Homo sapiens: one gene and its partners. The protein of the gene in region 3 purifies or fractionates together with the protein of the main gene of each other region. This does not show direct contact. Each region holds a gene or a part of one and is shown on either strand. Other genes may lie near its edges.

Region 1 (5,014 bases), on a different chromosome or scaffold from region 3:
GTCCTGCAGGTGTCTCCAAGGGTGATGCTTACACACAGCCAGGCAAAGGGACCCAGGGACACAGCCAGGCAAAGGTGTTCAGGTTTAGAGGAAGTATGTCCTGCTCTCAGGGTCTGGACACTGATGAGGGGTCATCTTACAGGCAAACCCTGTATCTTAGTGATTCTAAGAATCTTGACCTAATGGATGGACTGGGGCAGTGAATTTCAAATCAATTTAGTAGGTAACAACCAGTATTTCTCTTGGAATGAAACAGATTGTGATGGGATGGGACGGGACAGGACGGGATGGGATGGGACGGGACGGACGGGACGTGATGGGACGGGACGGGATGGGATGGGACGGGATGGGATGGGATGGGTTAAAATATAGCAGAGGAAGGGCAGGTATTAAGTATGGCTCTGTGAAATGTATTTATATGTGTTTAAGTATTGGGTTGCTGTATATTTCTTACTATGGGTTGTGATAAAAAAAAAACTTTGAAAGCCACTGGTCTAAGGATAATATGTACTTTCACATTGATTAAGAATCTCGCTAAACCATATAGAATAATGATAAAGTTTTTGCAAGATCAGTGGATACCAGTAGTTGTAGTACTGTTTCCTAAGATTCTCTTCCATCTTTTGTGTGAAAAGTCATGTTTGTCTGCATGTTCTCTCTCATAAGTGGGAGTTGAACAGTAAGAACACATGAACACAGGGAGGGGAACATCACACACCGGGGCTGTTTCGGGGGTTAGGGGCAAGAGGAGGGAGAGCATTAGGACAAATATGTAATACATGTGGGGCTTAAAACCTAGATGATGGGTTGATGGGTGCAGCAAACCACTGTGGTACATGTATACCTGTATGACAAACCTGCATGTTCTGCACATGTATCCCAGAACTTAAAGTATAATAAATAAAAATAAATAATAATAAATAATAAATAAATTGTGTTTATTTGTCATACCATGTTACCAGGCTCATTGAAAGCCTGGGAAGCTGGAAATGAGTCCAGTAGAATAATCAGTCTCCTAATGTGCAAAGTAGTGGAAAGATTTAGAGTGCCATGTTTCATTTTTTATTTGTGATATAGTAGTAGTAGTATTCCATGTAGGCGAAGAATGAGAATAAATGCGGAGCAGAATCCTTGATGTTTACTTTTGCTCTTAGCCAAGGAAAATGACATGAATAGCGAAGAGGAGTTTATACTTACTGATTATATTTCCTAGGAAGTGGGAAATTTATATTATTCTATTTAGGAAGTTATTACATATAAATTTTGTGCCAGGTTCTATTGTAAGGGCTTTATTTACATATATTACCTCATTTAATTTTCACAGTAGTCTTATGAGGTGAATGCTATTTTTTTCCCCCATTTCACAGATAGAGCCACAGAAAGGTTAAGTAACTAGCCGTGGTTACAGAGCCAAGCCCAGCAGCCTGACTCCAGAGTCAGCTCTCAGTTATCACAATATGTTGCCTTCTCATATTGTGTAGGCCATGGAAGTCCATGTATTGAGATCATCCAGATATTGCTGCCACTCAGCCTTTCTTCAAATGGGCAACCATTTCTCATCTTCTGGTGTCTGGTGAAGATACTTCTAGGTTCTCAAATACTTCTTTGCAGATCTCTTAAATGGTCTGAAGGCCACCTATGAATTCATAGATTTCTAAAGTTAAGTTGAAAATACCCTGCCTTTCCCCTCTTGGTTGCTTCATAGGTTAATCAAACTGTGGCAGCATTAAAAACCAATAATGTGAATGTCAGTTCCCGGGTACAGTCAACTGCATTTTTCTCTGGTGACCAAGCTTCCACTGACAAGGAAGGTAAGTAAAGCATTTTATCAGAAAAGATTTTTGTCTGGAGTAAGTTGCTTATGTGTAAATGCCTATCTTAGGATTTAAAAATCTTAATATCACAGAAGCCTCATATTCCTACCAATGCCTCATACACATTGTGGCAGGTGTGCATCTTATTTCAGAAGCGAAGAATATTTCTACCATAGGTTACTTCTGTCATTCATTGATACTTAAGTTATTTATTCAGCAAATATTTCTTTTACATTGATAGTAGTAACAACCCTGGCTATCATTTATTGAGGGTGTATTGTGTGCCAGGCCCTTTGCTAAGTTGCCACTATACAAACATGATCTCATCCAACCCTCCCAGTAAATTTCATAATGAGCATCTTGAGGCCCTGTGCAAAGTCTCACAACTAGTAAATGCCAAAGCTGAGCTACTTATGGAGCTTGTCTCTGAAGCCCACACTTGTAATCTTTTTGTGATACTGTTCCTGTGGCACAGTTGTACTGTTCCAGTGGCTGCATCTGTTTGCATTTTCTTCTCAAGATGCATGTTTCCTGATACAGGGATCAATATATTTTGATTTTAGATGAAAATTGATTTACTTGGCAATTTTTCTTTTAGGTTATTCTTTTATAATCTAAAAAAGGTATATTATTTTCTTTTCCAAGTAGAGTCCTCTTATTTTTATATGTATAGTTGAATAAGAACAGCTATATAATGCAGTTAACAATCTCAAATGGTGAGACAGAAATTATTCTGACGTTAAACTCCAATTCATTGTTCCCTTATTCAGGGTATACATATGGCTTTAGTCATTACATAAATAAAAACTAGGAATAGTGGCCTGTTTGTGATTGATAGTAATTCAGGCAATCTGATTTGCAGGAATCTACCTTGCATGTATAGGTAGTTGGCTACTGCCATTCTGGGAGTGGTGGACAGCACCTTTGCCATACTGAGTTACCAGCTGTCAGTGTCTTTAATTGGCTTTAACAATAGAAGATGAGGGATTGAGATAGATGATTAATGGATAGATAGGTGGGTGGATAGATGCATCCATGGATGGATGGATGGAACCATAGATTTTGTTTTAAAAGTAGGAGAAGGGATGTTAGAGGTTATTTAGACAGATCATCTCATTTTTTAAATGGAGAGGTAGGTAACTTATCCTCAAGATCTTCTGTTCTAAGTCTAGTGCTTTTACCAGTACTCTACATATTAAGGTTCTGGGCTTGGCTATATTGCCATTTAGTGTCCTGACCATAAAGTAAACTTTACATATTTTACATTATTTCATTTTTTAGATATTTAGGTTGGTTTGGTACCAGAAGCAGCAAATGAACTATATGTTGACTTTCTTAAAATAGTTTTCTTGGTCTAGTCATGACTCATTGGATAATGACTATCCCAGATCCATGAGCAATTTTAAGAAGGGTCAAATGATAACTTTCAGTTCTCCATTGACAATGAAAATCTCTTACTGAAGACTTTTTGACATCAGGTGGTCCCCAGACGGCAGTCATTTTCTATGTAATACTGAGGCAAATTGTTACTTTGACTTGAGAGCAGAGGAGAATGGAAAAAAGGAAGTGAGTGAATATCCCAGCAGCAAACCTGGGGTCTGCTTTTGGTGCTTTATATCCCCACGTGGTTATCCCATCTTATGATTAAGTTTGATTATCTGCTTGTATTCTACATAAAATACTGAATTCAGGAACAGAGTTTTGAAACATTTTATTGTCTTCTTATGTAACTGTATTTCTAATTGCTGCCAGAGCTGCATTTTAGTACTGAGAATCCAAATGCTTTAGAATTAATGATGATAAATTCTGCTGAGTTAGTTGTTTAAGTTTAAGTATTTTATTAGTTTGGGAGTGTGTGTGTGTGTGTGTGTGTGTGTGTGTGTGTGTGTATGTAGAACTATGTATATAGAACAATATGTATGTATAGAACTATATATATATATTTCAGGGTTCTTATAAAGCAAATACCTAGTAGTAGAGACATGGTATTTTATTTCTCTTAAATGAGTACACTCATTACTGTTGAATAATTAGATTTATTCTTTATTGAAGCAGGCTTAGAAAAGATTACCCTTTTAAAAAAGACATGACTATTTCATATTGTTGTAGATGATTTTTAAACTTTATTTGTATTCAGTGGTTTCAAATAAGAAAGCAACCCTGAGTTTTTGTTTTTAATGTCATTTAGGGAGCATCTACTGTATTATACTTGTTTTATCTTATATCTTTGGTATCATCACATGTCATATCTCATCCCTCATATCTTCCCACTAGTCTGACCGATAGATATTACTATCCCCATTTTACAAATGAGAAAACTGAGGCTAGAGCTTAAGTGAGTTCCCTTTATCCAGATAGGGTCAGAATTTGAATTCAGGTCAATTTGACTATAAAACCACCATAATTACTATTTTTTTTTTTTGCTTTCACTCCTCCTTCTGTTTCTTTCAGAGGATTATATTCGTTATGCCCATGGTCTGATATCTGACTACATCCCTAAAGAATTAAGTGATGACTTATCTAAATACTTAAAGTGAGTATTGATTATCTTCAGTCATAATGAAGTACCATTTGCTTCTTGGTTTCCCCAGCAGTGGGGTTTCCTTATGGCTTATCATATCACTGTTTATGATACAAGATTATTCTTCAGCTATGTCATATACTTTGTGCTTTGGGGATGATTTTTAATGGATGATTGGAATGAACTGATTTGATGGATACGGATTGCAGGAACTAGTGAATGTCAAGATTGGAATTATGGCTTGGTCTGATTTTAGAGGATTAACTATGTTAAAATTTTATCCTCAATTATACTTAACTAATTTGGTTCTTTGTGATCGTTTTAAGAGGAAGAAAGGAGGGATGGAAAGAGTAGATGGAATATAGACTTTTTTTTAATTTACAAAATATTGATATCATTTTCACTATTATCACTAGATGTTCACTAAAGGGACTTTATGCCAAAGACTTGGAAGTCAAAGTAATATGAAACACAATCTGTGTCTTTGAGGGGCAGAAGAAGGGTTTTAAGAATGGTTTAATGTATGTTCCTTTCTTTATAAAGAGCTTATACATTTAGACTTTAAGTTGAAAAAGAAGTGTTAGAAGTGTTTATTTTCTAGATTTTTGCAAAATCGTTACTTAATTTTGTTGTTAAGATTTTATGTGTGTGATGATTTAATAGCTTTTCCTGATCCTTA
Region 2 (5,014 bases), on a different chromosome or scaffold from region 3:
GTCTGATCTTGACTCACTGCAACCTCTGCTTTCTGGCTTCAAGCGATTCTCCTGCCTCAGCCTCCCAAGTAGCTGGGATTACAGGTGCATACCACCAAGCCAGACTAATTTTTCTATTTTTAGTAGAGACAGAGTTTCACCATATTGGCTGGTCTCAAACTCCTGACCTCAAGTGATCCACCTGCCTCGGCCTCCCAAAGTGTTAGAGGCATGAGCCACTGTGCCCAGCCTGATTGCCTTTGTGTGATGTTAGTAGCCATTAACCCTTGATGCCTAGATCTATTAATTCACTGGGGATTGCAAAATGGTGATTTTCTGTCATTTTCTCTTATTAGACAGAATACTTCAACAAAGGCAAATTTCTCCTACCTTCGTTATTTCATTATCCTGAGGAATGATTCAGATAAAGGCAGGATAAATGCCTTTATTCTTCATAGTTGGGTTCTTAGCATCCCCCCAAACATTTGTTTTCTTGAGGACATTTGCTGAGTTTTCTGAATCATCATGAACACATGGATTTAAAATATTTGATCTGTTTCAACATACCACATTAGTAACGCCCTTTTTAGCCAGTAAGAATCTCTTTATGCTAGCTCTTGAGCCCTTTTGTAGTCTGAGCCCTTTTATAGTTTCTTGCTTTCTAGCATGACAAGGTGTTCTTGGTTCATCTTGTACATTTTCTATCTCAGACCTGGACTCTGCTAGTTCTCCAAAATAGCAGTCATTTGTTTTTTTGTGAAAACATTATTTGAAAAACCTTTATAAAGCATTCACACAAAACACATTATTGGTGGGATGGCAAAAAGAAAACAAGAAAATATTAATTGTTGAAAGATGCTGACAACGGTTCTGATTTTAAAGAAATATTATGAAATACAAAGCCCTTTGAAATACATAAAACTGATTTAAAAACTCAATTTTAATTTAGACCAGTAATAGTCTTTACCTGACAAAAATCTTTAGGGCATAATGCTATAATTCATAATTTACCAGTTATAGTTTTTTTCACTATGGACTTTCAAATTGCTTTAACTCAAAACACTAAGAAATCGGTTTCATTATGAAATATGAATCTTTCTTTGAATGAAACAAATAAACATTCTCTACCATGAAGCTAACAGTGTCCTTAATTATTCTTGTCAAATCTGCAGAACACTTCCTGAAGGAAAAAATTTGGAATCTCAAATTAATAATAATCAAGTAGTAATAACCTAAGAGGGCAAAAGGAAGAAACGAGAATGAAGTCTAGAACTAACGAAATAGTCTTATATGATGAGTACTATAAGTCCTTAATCAAAAAGCAAACAAATAACTTTAGAAGTTCCCAAATGTATGAATGACTTATAAAAGTGCAGATGTGGTGAATTCATACCTCTAACACAAAATCCATATAAGTAAATTTTGTGGTAGGCAGAGAATGGTTGTTGCCTGGTTGATTGGAAACTAACTAGAGTTGAAGAAAAAAACTTGACAAGTCTACCTGATCAAGCGTACGAATTGCTTCCTCTGAAGAGTCATAATCTGAGAGTTTAATCAAAGCCTCTGCTTTCAAATGAAGACAAAGATTCCTCTGATAAAGACTGTTACCAGACGCACCAAGATTATCTACGATCTTCAGAGCTGACAAAATTAAGGGTATCCAAATGAAGACAGCCATATCACTTCTGTTTATTTTTTCTTTTTTAAGGATGACATATAATAAATTGCAGATACAATAAGCATAAATTTCCAAAACAATATACATGAAGAATAACTCAAAGCTAAATATAAATTCTTCCCTGACTTCCTTATGGAAAGACCTGAATTTAAAACAGAACATATCTGAATTTAAAACCTCTATCTTCACACAACATATAATAAAACTGAATATCCTAAAAAACGACAATGGCTATCTATATTTGCTAAACAATAAAGGTTAGCCCACAACCAAAGCACCTGTAACAAATATAAGAAATTAAGGATACTGGAAGGGGAAAGCAGCTGAATTAGAATGGACCAAGGTGAACTGTTTCTTAGTTACAGGGAGCAAGCTACCAGGTGGGTCAGAAACAGTGAACCACTTTCATGATTTCCTATCCCCACCCCTCACCCTGTCACATTCAAATAGGCTCCAAGATGCCTAAGGTTTCCCCTCTCTATATGAGAGAAATTAAGAACTCATGTGTCTTGGACACACCAGAAACTTCCTTGTTACAAAGACAGAGGACCTCCACACCCAAGCCTAAACTGACTATGTCAATATTCCAAATGCAGGAAAATTTTGCTAAACATTCATTGTCAGTTTAAAAATAAACACACTAGTACACATGCATGCAGACTTTTATTTAAACTTATTGAAATTAAAATTAGCAATTTAAAATACAAAATATAGCATTTTGGTTTTTAAAAATCACTATCTTTGTCCTTTAAGATAAAAACAAATAGGGTTGGTCACCCTTATATGTCAACCCAAAAAGTATCAAAAATACCTTGACTGCATGAAAGAACAGCTTCTTTAGGTCTATGCATTTTGACTTGGGCTTCTGCCAGATGATACCATCCACTTGTGCAGACAGGGCTTTCCTTTAACCCTAAAAGGATAAAAACAATCACAAAAAACAAGGTTTCTGTGACTACATAGATGAACAGCACCAATGCCTACTCTCCAAATCAGACTCCTCCCCTCTTCATCTCTCATATCTCATCAGTCACAAAGTCACACTGATTCTCTGCCTCAATTCATTCCCCACCATACATTTTTCTCCATCTCCACGTCAGTTCAGACCTCCACCATCTTTATCCCAAATCACTACAAGTGCTTGCCATCCACCCCAATGCATTCTTTACACTGTAGCTAGAATATCTCTAAAAAGACAAATCAGATTATAAAATTCCCCTGCTAAAAATCTTTTACTGATTCCCCACTGTTGTCAGGATACTGTGCAAACTCCTTACCAAGTCTTGCTAGGCCCTTCTACAATCTCACTTCTTGTCCCCTCCTGTACATACACTTCATTCTCAAACCCTGGTGAACTACCTGCAGTTCTCTGAACAACAGTTTTCCTCTTAGCTCAGGCTATTTCACAGATTCATCTCTGCCTAAAATGTTCTTCCCATTCCCTTCAACCACCTACCTGGCTTGTATTTACCATTCAGATCTATAATTTGAATGTAGGTTCTTCCAGAAACATCATACCTAGTAAGACTAAGTTAAAGCCTAAGTTCCTAATGCATATATATCTACATGTCTGCCTTCCTCCCTCCCTCCCTCCCTCCCTCTCCCTCCCAATTTACTTTTTGCTTTGCTTTCTTTCTTTTCTTTTTTCTCTCTTTCTATATAGATATACCTATTTTACAAATGAAAACACTGACACACAGTAAGTTTAACTCTTCTGAGGTCTTGAAATTAGTGATAAGCAGAGTCAGAGTTCAAACCTAAGCAGAGTCCAAGGTATGCAGGTACATTTTTTCCCTTCCACCTTAGATAGACATTCCTTAAAGAAAGGCTCAAAGATAAATGCCTACTGACTGAATAATAATTATACTTCACGTTACATGCCATACACTGTACATTTACCTTCTGTTAGGTTCCTAACAGCATCTTCATACTTTTTGTCTTGTAATGCTTTAATGCCTAAGCCAATGAGGCCTGGACCACTTTTTGAATCCATTTCCACTAATCTACAACAATACTGCTGCCCCTCATCAGTAAGATTTCCTGGAATTAAAAGGAAAGGTTATTAGTATACATATATCGAGTTTCTAAATGCCCAAACCCATATTCTTAAATCTCAAAATCTGCCTTTATATTCTTATGCATTCTTCACCACATGCTGACTCCAGAAATTCAAAATTTAAATAGACCAGCAAATGCAGAAAATATTAACATTTAATTTAAATAATTATGATTTTTCATCTTCTTAAATACTGGAAGTAGAAACCACTTTAGGATTTCAGACAAGAAACCTGCTACTTGCCAGTAGACTAAGCCACATAGCCTACTGCTTGCCAGCTGTAACAATTTGGTTGTCAAATGAAGGAGCCCTTGTCAAAGCAGAGTGTCTTCCTCAAGTTCTCTTCCTGGGCAACCATGCGCTGCTAGAGACATGTTAGTCAGATCCAGCAGACTCTTCCAGCATCCAAGGATCACAAGATAGGCGGGTTACTCATCAGGACACTGCACAAAGACTTAGTCACATTCCTCTTAAGTCTACAAATTTACCAGTACATTTCCACATTTTTCTAAAACTATCTTTTTCTATATAAGTGAATTGTGACACTTATGAGATAGTCATCCAATGCCTACATTTATTTTATTTTCAAATTTATTTTGGTAAAATAGTTTAGAAAACATTATATATTTTGTAATATTTCCATTTTCCCCAATCTCAATCCCACAAAAGCATCAAAACAAACAAAAAATTGTAATTTCTGTTTTAGAATAAATTGTGAATAGCATTCACAAGTTTAATAAATCATTTAATCACATAGGAGAATTCTTAAAAAGACAAACTACAACTTGAAGCAATAAATATGGGAAACAAAAAAAATTCCTGAAAAAAAAAGACCCGATGCTTTAATAACTATATAAAACATAGAAGCCCAAACCACATGTAGAACCACTGTTTCAGTTACAGATGTCAAAGGTAAATTATTTGCATAATACCATGTAGCTCATATATTTCAAATTTTAAAAACCATTTGCAAACCAATGTATAATCCATTAGTAATATGTAGTAATATGTTATATACTGATTTAGAAATCCAAGTTGGCACCAAAAATGAAAAGAATTAATAATGGCTAAAGAGTTAAAACTTCAGTATATTTGGCAAAATATGAAAACAAATTGGAAGAAATACTACTTTGATTAGTAAGCCAGTGAAAAAGACACAAGCCTGCTACTATTATGCTTCCAGGCATGAACTTCCTTGTCAATATTTTCTCACCATAGCTTCCATAAATATGAATTCCAAAAATAGATATGTCTAGTTCCATACACCCTATACCCTCCCAAGAAAACTAGCAGCTTTTTCC
Region 3 (5,014 bases):
TACTCAGGAGGCTGAGGCAGGAGAATCACTTGAACACGGGAGGCAGAGGTTGCAGTGAGCTGAGATTACACCACTGCACTCCAGCCTGGGCAACAGAGTGAGACTCCATCTCAAAAAAAAAAAAAAAATTAGACTGACATGGTGGTGCGCACCTGTAATCCCAGCTACTTGGGAGGCTGAGGCAGGAGAATCGCTTGAACCCAGGAGGCAGAAGTTGCAGTGAGCCGAGATCATGCCACTGCACTCCAGCCTGGGCAACAGAGTGAGACTCTGTCTCAAAAAAAAAGAGTTTCTAATTTAAAAGAGAAAGAAAAAATCATTTAAAGAAAAATAAGAAAACAAAGATACTGGTAACTCTTCATTTTGCAAAATAAAAGATTGAAAATTGACTCCAATATTGATGAAGGGTAAAGATTCTATTTTAATGCCAACGTTAAAGGAGGGGAAAGATTGACATTGGTGCTAACATTGAAAGGGAGAAAATATTTTAACTCTGACTTCAATTTGGACACTTTGGATATGGTGGTACTGATAAAGAGTTGGAGATTACTGAGAAGAATGAAATGTCAGTTGTACAGTACTTCTGTGTGGACTTTGATTGGAGGCTATTGCTACTCCCTTGTGACACAGTGGTATAAGGATACATTTCTATAAGAGAAATAATCTTGATTAAACAAAGTCAGATGCTTTCTCAGAAAGGGCCATGGCACAGAGATTTTAGCGAACAGAACTTTAGCATTCATTGTGAACACATTTTTATGTTTCTTTTCCTCCACGGTATCTAAATGTAAATGATGGTAAGATTTAGTCCCTATTTTCCATTTTTTTTTTTTTGAGACAGAGATTTGCTCTTGTTGCCCAAGCTGTAATATAATGGTGTGACCTCGGCTCATTACAATCTCCACTTCCCGGGTTCAAGTGATTCTCCTGCCTCAGCCTCTGGAGTAGCTGGGATTAACAGGTGCGCACCACCACACCTGGCTAATTTTTGTATTTTTAGTAGAGACAGGGTTTTGCCATGTAGGCCGGGCTGGTCTCGAACTCCTGACCTCAGGTGATCGCTTGCATCAGCCTCCCAAAGTGCTGAGATTACAGGTGTGAGCTACAGCACCCGACCCTATTATTTTTTCTTTTTCTTTTTTAATTATTTTATCTTTAAATTTTTTTATTTGATTTAATTTTTTAAATGTTTTTTATTTTACTTTAAGTTCTGGGATACATGTGCAGAACATGCAGGTGTGTTATATACGTATACATGTACCATGATGGTTTGCTGTCCCATCAACCCTGTCATCTACATTAGGTATTTTGCCTAATGCCATCCCAGTCCCTATTTTTTCCCTGGAGACTTTGGAAAGAAGCCAAAAGTTGTTAAGCCTTGAATTGTAAAAGGCCATGAGGAGCTGGAGATCAGTTGTTGGTTTCCATTTTCGCACACAATGAAATTGACTCTGCAGCTCCAGGACCCTCCAAGCTGGGCCCTCTCTCATTTTACTTAATTGTGCTTTCATTTTTGCAGATATATCCCAAGACTGGTCAGACTTTGCTCTTTGGTGGGAACAGAAGCATTGCTGGCTTCTGAAAACCCACTGGACCCTGGACAAATATGGGGTCCAGGCAGATGCAAAGCTTCTCTTCACCCCTCAGCATAAAATGCTGCGCCTTCGTCTGCCGAATTTGAAGATGGTGAGGTTGCGAGTCAGCTTCTCAGCTGTGGTTTTTAAAGCTGTCAGTGATATCTGCAAAATCCTGAGTAAGTACCCAGGAAAGGCCCCTGTGCCCTGTAGACTCTTGCAAAGCTAGACAGGAAAATTATGTGTGCATTCTGCCTACTTCAAGTAATTGCTACAGAACACTCACCTATTAGGAAGCACATGTTTAAGCCCTTCTGGGTATTGCAGCCATTTAAGTGGAGTTAAGCCAAGTGGAACATTATTGGCATAAATCAGGTACATCTCCACAAAGCTTAAAACTATTCCAAAAGAGATTTGTTAATAGACAAGATAAACCACTAAGATTGCCCCCCAAAATTTATTGATCCAAGCTATACTCAAACATTATTGTACAGTATTTAAGATTTAAAGAGTTGTATTAAATACTTAATCACCATAGAGCTATGTGTCTTTATTGTTTTTGAGATAATGGTGTTCCAAAGTCTTAATTGCTTAAGACCTGGCTCAAGTAAATAACTCTGCCCATAAAAATCACTTATGAAGTGATTAAGCAGAAAAGTACACTTAATTGTGAATTTAAACCTAATTATTTATAGATTTGGTATCCTATAATTTAACAGTCGTAAAGACAACACTACCCAAACCAATTTTTCTTTATAAAACTCCATAAAGGGAAGGAAACACCCCATGAAGGTATTCTCATTTTATAATTTTTGAAAGTATTATAGGTGTATTCATTGGTTCCAAAACCAAAAATCAACATTTGAACCCAGAATAGATAATATATAGTGATATATAGTGAGTAATCTATTTTTCCCATTAAACCATAAACTATTCACTCATTCAGCAAATATTTATTGAGCACCTACTGTGTCCCAGGCATTGTGGTGAGTGCTAGGGATATAGTAGCAATACAGAGCTAAAATCCCTGCCACCTGGAGCTTACATTTTAGCAGGCAGAGACAGACACTAACCAATAAATGTAAATGTAACAAATTTTAAAATATAAATGGAACAAGTTAAAAAAGAATATAAGAGGTTAAAATGGGATGGATAGTACCCCAAAAAAGAGAAAAAGTATGAGCAGGATTGGGAATGCCAGGGTTGGGCAGTGGGGGCTGGTATGGTATATGAAGTAGGGTGAGAGCAGAAACCGTTTCCTGAGCATCTCTGCATTCCTCACTCCAGTCACAATGCCTAGCATACAATAACTGTTGAGTGAACAAATGAATGGAAACTTTCATTACAGAATGTAAGTTGCAGTCTTGTCCCTGGTGTGCAAATGGCAAGCATGAGGACACCTTGTGTTTTTGGTAATATTCTAATGAGGATTTGAAAGCAAAGTAAATGATTACATAAAATAGTATATTGCATACACCACAGTGGACTGGAAGCACACATCACAGCTGATACCAAAAATGTAAAGTTTTCAAGTAAACAGAAGCAGTCAGATGTTCTCTTTTCCTGATTATCTCTTTGTAATAGTTTTAAAGGCTCAGCGTGGCATTTCTAATCATTGCATTTTATATCTTATCAATTGAAGTGAAATCAAATGCAGCAGTTTAGTGGTTTTTCCCTTGAAGAACAGAAAAGACACAAATCTTAACCTTGAAGATACAGGTGTTTCTGTTTCATTGTTTTGCTTTTAGTGCTCACAGTGAAATTTTTTATTCATGACCGAGTTTGTGTATAAATTATGCATTTGGAATGGTCACACGTGTGTTGCAACCTGACAATCCTTGGCTGCTGGGGAGAGTCAAGCTAAACTGCTAGGCTCAGTCTCAACACTGAGCAGTATATGAACGAAATGATGAGAGAACTTAATGGAATCAGTGCACTTACCTTCAACAAAGCTGCTCAGAAACTAAAAGTCCAAATTAATTGGTTTTTACCTGGAATGATAGCCACTAGTGTAGTTAAAGGTTATCAGCAATTCTGATCAGCAATTATAAATATATTTGATTAATGGGAGAAATGGGGATTACCATAGTTTCAGTTCCCAGAAGAAGACCCTGAGATAAGGATTCAAGTACAAATAGTTTATTTGGGAGGTGATGCCAGGAAATACTGTTGGGGACAGGGAAGTAAGACTGAAAAGAGAAGAGTGTCACCAATCAGGTTACACTTCAGCAGCTGGTGACCCCTGGGAGACAGTGTAGACACAGCCTCAGGGTAAGGATGTTTATGCAGCACCCTGGATAGTCACTGAAGGTTGCTCTTGGGGAGCATTAATTCCCGGAATATGTGGGCTGTTGCAGTGCAGACCCTGGTGAGCCATCAGAGCAAAGCCTCTGGCAGAAAGATGCATGGTCTAGATTCCGCCAGAAGCCAGGTGTGCTGAAATGGTGAGGACCAAGAAGAAATGGGCAGGGCATGAGGGTGTCACCACAGGGATAAAATGAGCTGATGGGCAATGTGTAAAAGAAAGACGTTCAAGATCTGTGATCTATAAAGAAAAAAGGAAGCAGGACCTTTGTTGGTTGTTTAAAAAACTGGAAAAAGGAAAGGGAGAGGGAGCAAGGAAGGGAAGTCTATTAGTTCATTTTCATGCTGCTGATAAAGACATATCTGAGACTGGGCAATTTACAAAAGAAAGAAGTTTAATGGACTTACAGTTCCACATGGCTGGGGAGGCCTCACAATCATGGAGGAAGGCAAGGAGGAGCAAGTCACGTCTTACATGGATGGCAGCAGGCAAAGAGAGAGCTTGTGCGGGGAAACACCCTATAAAACCATCAGATCTCATGAGACTTATTCACTATCATGAGAACAGCACAGGAAAGACCTGCCCCCATGATTCAATTACCTCCCACTGGGCCCCTCTGACAACACATGGGAATTCAAGATGAGATTTGGGTGGAGACACATCCAAACCATATCAGGAAGAAAGGGGAGAGGGAGGTAAAGTTGGTGGTAAATAGGTAACAAGAATAGCATAATGCTAGTAATGACTGAAGCTGGGGAGCCCATGAAGGGGACATTATACCATTCCCTTTGCTTTAGATACATTTGAAATATTTTTATAATAATTTTTCTAACCAGAAATTTCACTAGACTGAATCTCCCTCCACCGTTTTCTCCCCCCACCTACTTTGGAGGTCTCTGTTCCCCTTTCCCCTTCTGTTTCTTCAAAAGGGATGCAGTTTAGTCCCATTTACTTTTCAGAAATTTCCTGAGAAATGATTTTAAATGCACAAAATGACCCTGAGTCTTAGAAGGAGTTTTCTTTTTACTTTTTCTTCATTTTTAAAAAATATTTATTTCTAGATATTAGAAGATCAGAAGAGCTTTCCTTGTTAAAGCCGTCTGGTGACTATTTTAAGAAGAAGAAGAAAAAAGAC

The links. The genes of interacting proteins can lie anywhere in the genome.
Region 1: the proteins of FERMT1 (region 3) and RNASEH2B fractionate together in Homo sapiens (co-fractionation; one large-scale study listed by BioGRID). This does not show direct contact.
Region 2: the proteins of FERMT1 (region 3) and SKIC3 fractionate together in Homo sapiens (co-fractionation; one large-scale study listed by BioGRID). This does not show direct contact.

The regions. Positions count from the first base shown.
Region 1 is NC_000013.11:50,943,722-50,948,735, forward strand, and holds part of RNASEH2B (ribonuclease H2 subunit B), read left to right. Parts: intron 1-1,705; coding exon 1,706-1,811; intron 1,812-4,265; coding exon 4,266-4,347; intron 4,348-5,014. UniProt on the Homo sapiens protein: Non catalytic subunit of RNase H2, an endonuclease that specifically degrades the RNA of RNA:DNA hybrids. Participates in DNA replication, possibly by mediating the removal of lagging-strand Okazaki fragment RNA primers during DNA replication.
Region 2 is NC_000005.10:95,526,533-95,531,546, forward strand, and holds part of SKIC3 (superkiller complex protein 3), read right to left. Parts: intron 3,698-5,014; coding exon 3,557-3,697; intron 2,571-3,556; coding exon 2,469-2,570; intron 1,621-2,468; coding exon 1,481-1,620; intron 1-1,480. UniProt on the Homo sapiens protein: Component of the SKI complex, a multiprotein complex that assists the RNA-degrading exosome during the mRNA decay and quality-control pathways.
Region 3 is NC_000020.11:6,112,550-6,117,563, reverse strand, and holds part of FERMT1 (fermitin family homolog 1), read left to right. Parts: intron 1-1,519; coding exon 1,520-1,753; intron 1,754-4,940; coding exon 4,941-5,014. UniProt on the Homo sapiens protein: Involved in cell adhesion. Contributes to integrin activation. When coexpressed with talin, potentiates activation of ITGA2B. Required for normal keratinocyte proliferation.